2 linked regions of the Homo sapiens genome follow. The protein of the gene in region 1 interacts with the protein of each later gene in a pairwise test. Each region holds a gene or a part of one and is shown in the gene's direction. Other genes may lie near its edges.

Region 1 (3,339 bases):
GACAGTGGGGTTGTGGTTGGTTGGTATAGAATGGTGGGAATTCAAATTTTTCTAAACTCATGGTAAGTATATTGTAAAATACATATGTACTAAGAATTTTCAAAATTGGTTTGTTCAGTGTGGAGTATATTCAGCAGTATTTTTGACATTTTTCTTTAGAAAAAGGAAGAGCTAAAGGAATTTTATAAGTTTTGTTACATGAAAGGTTGAAATATTGAGTGGTTGAAAGTGAACTGCTGTTTGCCTGATTGGTAAACCAACACACTACAATTGATATCAAAAGGTTTCTCCTGTAATATTTTATCCCTGGACTTGTCAAGTGAATTCTTTGCATGTTCAAAACGGAAACCATTGATTAGAACTACATTCTTTACCCCTTGTTTTAATTTGAACCCCACCATATGGATTTTTTTCCTTAAGAAAATCTCCTTTTAGGAGATCATGGTGTCACAGTGTTTGGTTCTTTTGTTTTGTTTTTTAACACTTGTCTCCCCTCATACACAAAAGTACAATATGAAGCCTTCATTTAATCTCTGCAGTTCATCTCATTTCAAATGTTTATGGAAGAAGCACTTCATTGAAAGTAGTGCTGTAAATATTCTGCCATAGGAATACTGTCTACATGCTTTCTCATTCAAGAATTCGTCATCACGCATCACAGGCCGCGTCTTTGACGGTGGGTGTCCCATTTTTATCCGCTACTCTTTATTTCATGGAGTCGTATCAACGCTATGAACGCAAGGCTGTGATATGGAACCAGAAGGCTGTCTGAACTTTTGAAACCTTGTGTGGGATTGATGGTGGTGCCGAGGCATGAAAGGCTAGTATGAGCGAGAAAAGGAGAGAGCGCGTGCAGAGACTTGGTGGTGCATAATGGATATTTTTTAACTTGGCGAGATGTGTCTCTCAATCCTGTGGCTTTGGTGAGAGAGTGTGCAGAGAGCAATGATAGCAAATAATGTACGAATGTTTTTTGCATTCAAAGGACATCCACATCTGTTGGAAGACTTTTAAGTGAGTTTTTGTTCTTAGATAACCCACATTAGATGAATGTGTTAAGTGAAATGATACTTGTACTCCCCCTACCCCTTTGTCAACTGCTGTGAATGCTGTATGGTGTGTGTTCTCTTCTGTTACTGATATGTAAGTGTGGCAATGTGAACTGAAGCTGATGGGCTGAGAACATGGACTGAGCTTGTGGTGTGCTTTGCAGGAGGACTTGAAGCAGAGTTCACCAGTGAGCTCAGGTGTCTCAAAGAAGGGTGGAAGTTCTAATGTCTGTTAGCTACCCATAAGAATGCTGTTTGCTGCAGTTCTGTGTCCTGTGCTTGGATGCTTTTTATAAGAGTTGTCATTGTTGGAAATTCTTAAATAAAACTGATTTAAATAATATGTGTCTTTGTTTTGCAGCCCTGAATGCAAAGAATTCATAGCAGTTAATTCCCCTTTTTTGACCCTTTTGAGATGGAACTTTCATAAAGTTTCTTGGCAGTAGTTTATTTTGCTTCAAATAAACTTATTTGAAAAGTTGTCTCAAGTCAAATGGATTCATCACCTGTCATGCATTGACACCTGATACCCAGACTTAATTGGTATTTGTTCTTGCATTGGCCAAAGTGAAAATTTTTTTTTTTCTTTTGAAATCTAGTTTTGAATAAGTCTGGGTGACCGCACCTAAAATGGTAAGCAGTACCCTCCGGCTTTTTCTTAGTGCCTCTGTGCATTTGGGTGATGTTCTATTTACATGGCCTGTGTAAATCTCCATTGGGAAGTCATGCCTTCTAAAAAGATTCTTATTTGGGGGAGTGGGCAAAATGTTGATTATTTTCTAATGCTTTGTAGCAAAGCATATCAATTGAAAAGGGAATATCAGCACCTTCCTAGTTTGGGATTTGAAAAGTGGAATTAATTGCAGTAGGGATAAAGTAGAAGAAACCACAAATTATCTTGTGCCTGAAATCCATTAAGAGGCCTGATAGCTTTAAGAATTAGGGTGGGTTGTCTGTCTGGAAGTGTTAAGTGGAATGGGCTTTGTCCTCCAGGAGGTGGGGGAATGTGGTAACATTGAATACAGTTGAATAAAATCGCTTACAAAACTCACACTCTCACAATGCATTGTTAAGTATGTAAAAGCAATAACATTGATTCTCTGTTGTACTTTTTTGTAACTAATTCTGTGAGAGTTGAGCTCATTTTCTAGTTGGAAGAATGTGATATTTGTTGTGTTGGTAGTTTACCTAATGCCCTTACCTAATTAGATTATGATAAATAGGTTTGTCATTTTGCAAGTTACATAAACATTTATCAATGAAGTCATCCTTTAGACTTGTAATCGCCACATTGTTTCATTATTCAGTTTCCTCTGTAAAGGGATCTTGAGTTGTTTTAATTTTTTTTTTCTGCATCTGAATCTGCATGATTTCCAAACCCTGTACCATCTGAATTTTGCATTTTAGCACTTGCACTATTACTCAGCAGCAGTAACATGGTAACACTTAAAATGGTACTCGGGGACCTCCAAAGACTAAACTGACAAGCCTTCAAGGAGCCCAGGGGTAAGTTAACTTGTCAACGGCATGGTTTAATCCCTTCTTTACACTTGTGTAAATTTCAGTTACTGGTCATAGAAGGCTTTCAATGTTGAGTGGCCTTTTATTAACATGTTTATGGTACTGCATAGATACGGGTATTTATTTTACCCTAAGAAGATTTTGAAGTTTAAAAGTACTTAAACTATTTGGCAAAGATTTGTTTTTAAAAATCTATTTGGTCAATCTAAATGCATTCATTCTAAAAAATTTTTTGAACCAGATAAATAAAATTTTTTTTTGACACCACAGTTTAGTGTCTGGAGTCTTACTGGAAAAACACGATTTCTTTTTATATGTGATATACAGATGCTGGAAAGTTACCTTTAAAAATTGAGTCTCTAAAGAAAAAAGAAAATAATAAAAATTGAGTCTCAAGAAGTTGTACTTCATATGCACAAGAGAAATGAGGCCAAGACTCACAGTAAGCTTTTACATGGAATGGTAACTTTTAGTTAGACTGAAAAACTTGAATGTTAGCTATTAAAACCTTTTAGGAAGGAATAGCCAGCTAAAACCAAATGAGATTTTTAAAGTTAAATCAGCACTTAAGTTGTGTCCTTAGTAGGAAAAAGTAGGAAGTTAACTACTCCGTAATCCAAGAGATAATGTGTAACAGTAAGAATGATTTTGTTGTTGTTGAGTATGAGCAAAGTAGCCCCTAAGTGTGTATTAGGGTTCTGTACTTAACTGTTGTGTGATGTGTGCTTTTGTTAGGCATCACTGTGCCCAAGTATTTCATGTTCATTGT
Region 2 (4,046 bases), on another chromosome or scaffold:
AAGGGACAACTTGTCTTTCAGCACATTTGACAATAGCAGCTGTAACGAACACACACGTGCACACATGCACACACACACACTACATGTGCACACATGTGCACATGCACACATGCACAAATCACATATGTGGCTTAACACAATACAACATTCTTCCTCCCTTGTGCAAAGCCCACTGTGGATATTGCAAGTTGGGACACTATTCTACCAGCGAAGATTCAGGGATCCCTGCTCCTTCCATCTTGGGAGCTCCTCCTCACTCCCACCCCCAGCTCCAATGGAGTTCCTGTTGTGGATGTGGTCTTCCCACCCACTACACCGGCCTTAGGCAGAGCCTGGCACAGCTGGGATCCTCACTGGGACTACATTGCTGGGCTGCAGACTGCTCCAGAGTCCCCCCAGAAGCCCCTAAATGTCCCTGAAAAGATGAGTCACTGACTGTGCTTTCAGCTCCAAGCAGCCTTTATCAATCTCTCAATCCCCATAGATACTGGGAAAATCTAGGAACATGTTCAGAACTCAAAGAGGGGTCTTCTGCTGCTGCTTTTTGTGGGGAGACAGGATCCCTGAGCTGGGGGACCAGACATCCTGGTGCCCCTGGCTTCAAGCAGCTGGTGGATCTGCGCGCTCAAAACTTGCCCTGGTCTGTATGGCCTCATCCTCTCGCTTGTCCCACTATGATGGATCTCGCTCGCTCCGTAGAGCAGTGGCTTTGCAACCCTAGCCAGCACTGGGGTCGCGCGTGGACTTGTCAGGACACACATTGCTGGGCTCCACCCCGAGTTTCTGATTCTGGGGCGAGGATTGAAAACTTGCTTTTCTAACGAGTTCCCAGCATTTTCGATGCTGCTAGTCCTGAGACCATACTTTGAAAACCGCCCCTCTAGAAAGTGCGATCCCTCCCCAGGAAAGAAGCAGGGCTATTTTTGCTCCAAAAGTATCCATCCTGCACGCCCTCTTCAGTGCTTGGCACGTGGCGAATAAACCAATCAGGATGAAAGGAGCCAACCCAAGTGCGGAGTGTTGAACCTCAGAGGAAGAAACCCGCGTTCACCAGGCCCAGGCCTGGGCCAGGCGCTGTCCTGGCGGCGTCAGGGAGGACATCGTGCCCAGAGCTCGGACCCAGCAGCCCGGCCCCGCGCCCTCCCTGTCCCGCGGCCCGCAGGCCCAGCCCTCAAGCGCCCAGCCTCCGCGGCCTTTGTGGCGTCACAGCCAGCCTGAAGAATGGTTGCCTTGGAGACGTAAACCCAAGAGCCCTGCTCCTGGAGCTGAGAACTGCAGCGCGGAGGCTTCGGAGCGAGCCGGGGCAGTCGGGGTCGGTGGGTGCGCTCGCGGTCCGGGGAGAGGGGGCGCGCGGGGTCCGTGAGGGCGCGTGGGGGCGGCGGCAGGGGTGCGAAACCAGGGCCCGAGGGGCGCGCGTGGCCGGGAGCGGACTTGCAAGGCGCCTTCCAAGGCTGCCCGCTCGCATGCCACTTGCTTGAAACACACCCATCTACCATCCACCCCATCTGTCCTACCATCCCTGTGCACCTCGCTGTGTGGCTCGGGGCCTTGCAGAGCGCGGGTGTTAGGAGGCGACCCTGCGAACCCCAGGCTCACCCAATAGGGGGCTGCAGCAGGAATGCGGCAGGAATGGCACAAGCTTAGAGTGGGGGCCCTTTCCAGAGGCAGCCCCTCCTGACTGTGACTTTGGACACCTCGCTGAATCTCTGCTTCCTCCCCTGCAAAAATGAAAATTCATTCAATGGATGAAGTTAAGAAGTGCCAAGGGTATGTCAGGAGCTTGGATGAGCAGAAAAGACCCCCCTGTTCTCATGGAGCTCACATTTTAGGGGGAAATAGACAACGAATGGATTTTTAAAGTGATAATCAGATAGTGGGAATTGCAGAGAAGAAAATAAAGGCCACATGGGGGTGGGGAGGAAGAAACCACTTTGGATGGGATGGTGAGAGGTCTCTCTAAAGAGGTGACATTTGAGCTCGGAATTGAAGAGAAGGAAGCCCAGCACCCCCAGCTGGGTATGGGAGAATATTTTTTGGCCGAGGAGGCCGAAAATGCAAAGGCTTGAGGCCAAGATTGATGTGTTCTAAGCACAGAAAAAGTAGGCAGCTAGAGCCAAGTCCAGGAGGTGAGAGTGGACCCTCGGGTGGGAGAGGCAGGGAGCCGGCAGGTGTCCCCACAAGGTGAGCCCTCAGCAAATGTCGGTGGCTGTCAGCCACCCAGGGGGAAGGAAGCTCTGGGCTTGGGGACCACCAGGCTCAAGCACTGTGTCACTCCTCAGGTGAGGATCTCCTTTAGAAGAGGAGAAGCCTTGCATCAACCTCTTGGGCCTCAGCCAAGATGTCTGAGATACCGTCCACTATAGTCTCCAAGAACATGACCAATGACAGTAAGTACCGGGCCAGGGTGGGCACTCTCAGAGGTCAGGGGCAGCTTCGGAGCCTGTCCAGCTCCCTCACAGGTTAAGGTAGCTCTAAACCAAACACTAGGCAGGAGTCATAGATCTGCCTACTTCCCTTGAAACAAGGCATATGGATTGCCTGCAGCTGCTGTAACAAAGCACCACCACAAACTGGGGGGCTGGAGTCACAGACATTTGTTTTCTCAAGCTCTGGGGGCTGGATGTCTGAGATCAAGTTGTCCAAAAGGCTAGGTCCCTCCAAGGGCTCTGAGCGAGAACCCATTCCGGGCCTCTCTCCTGGTTTCCAGAGCTTTGCAGGCAATCCTTGGTGCTCTTTGGCTTGTAGAAGCATCACTCCCATCTCAGCCTTCCTGCCCATGTGGAATTCTGCCTGTGTGTGTCTGTGTCCAAATTTCCCCATTTTACAGGGACCCCATCACATTGGATTGGAGGCCTACCCCGCTCCAGAATGGCCTCAGCTTAGTGAATTACAGCTGCAAAGACCTTATTTCCAAACAAGATCACATTCTGAGACAGTAGGGGTTGGGACTTCAACATACGAATTGGGATGACACAGTTCAACCCACAACAGACCATGAGGAAGGTGTCACCGTGAAGGTGAGCTTCTCTCAGCACCCCTCTGACCACAAATGCCAGGCTGGGCTCCAAGGAGGTGGTCAGCTGGCGCTAGGCCCTGGATGAAACATGCCTGCCCTAGTGGAATTGCATGCATTTGCCAAGATCTCACACAGGGCGACGCTGAGGGAGGCTGCCCAGGCCTACCTGGGGCCCTTCAGCTTTTTTATTGGAATTTAATTTGGTTTTGACCAGGCATAGTATTCCATGGTTCAAAATTCAAAAGTGTGTTAAAAGCCCCTCATTGTGAAAAGCCTCTCCCACCCTGTCAAAGGCATACAGTGCCCCTTCCTTAGAGATGGCCACTGTCCCCTGTCTCTTCTAGGCTACCAGCTCAGTGCACATACAGGCAAATGTGTGTAGATGAGGTTTGTTCTTTTCTTACACGGAGATCACACAATGAAAACCCTGTCTGCACCTTGATTTTTTTAATTAACCCATACATTGTAGAGACTGTTCCTTATCAATACATCAAGAATTCCCTTATACTTTTTGTGCTTTTGAGTAGAATAGTAATCTTTCAGTATGGCTGTATCATAATTTATTAACCAATTCTCTGTTCATATGGGTGATTAGCTTGTTTCAGAAAGTGTGCTGCTATAAACAGTGACCCCCACCATTACACTTAGGTGTGCACACGCTCTCTCGTTCTTTTTTTGCTCCAGAGTAAATTTTAAAATGAAGAAGGGCTGGAATAAGGTTTAAAAACAAAGATGGCTTTGAAATGTTTATAGATAACAAATTAACTCTCAATGTGCCCATAAAACAATGCAGATAATTATGCTACCACAAGACAGTTGAAGGACATGTAAACTATATTGATTTGTTTATTGGTATGAGGGGGAGTGCCTAGTTGGGGTACCCTATGACCCTGTGGCATTGGTAATTCCTCGAGATTGATTGAGGGCCTGTGCATTTGTGAGAAAACCAGGCCAGACAGGCAGAGCCAGGATTGGCACCCAGGGCCAGGGGTCTCAGAGTCAGGTGGGTCAGGGAGGTTGGCATGGGCAA

What was found.
Region 2: the proteins of TARDBP (region 1) and CFAP100 interact in binary tests that used the Homo sapiens proteins (3 or more experiments, as listed by UniProt).

The regions. Positions count from the first base shown.
Region 1 is NC_000001.11:11,022,654-11,025,992, forward strand, and holds the end of TARDBP (TAR DNA-binding protein 43), read left to right. Parts: coding exon 1-1; 3' UTR 2-2,839; downstream 2,840-3,339. UniProt on the Homo sapiens protein: RNA-binding protein that is involved in various steps of RNA biogenesis and processing.
Region 2 is NC_000003.12:126,393,663-126,397,708, forward strand, and holds the start of CFAP100 (cilia- and flagella-associated protein 100), read left to right. Parts: upstream 1-1,246; 5' UTR 1,247-1,316; intron 1,317-1,662; exon of another isoform or gene 1,663-1,767; intron 1,768-2,279; 5' UTR 2,280-2,338; coding exon 2,339-2,387; intron 2,388-4,046. UniProt on the Homo sapiens protein: May play a role in ciliary/flagellar motility by regulating the assembly and the activity of axonemal inner dynein arm.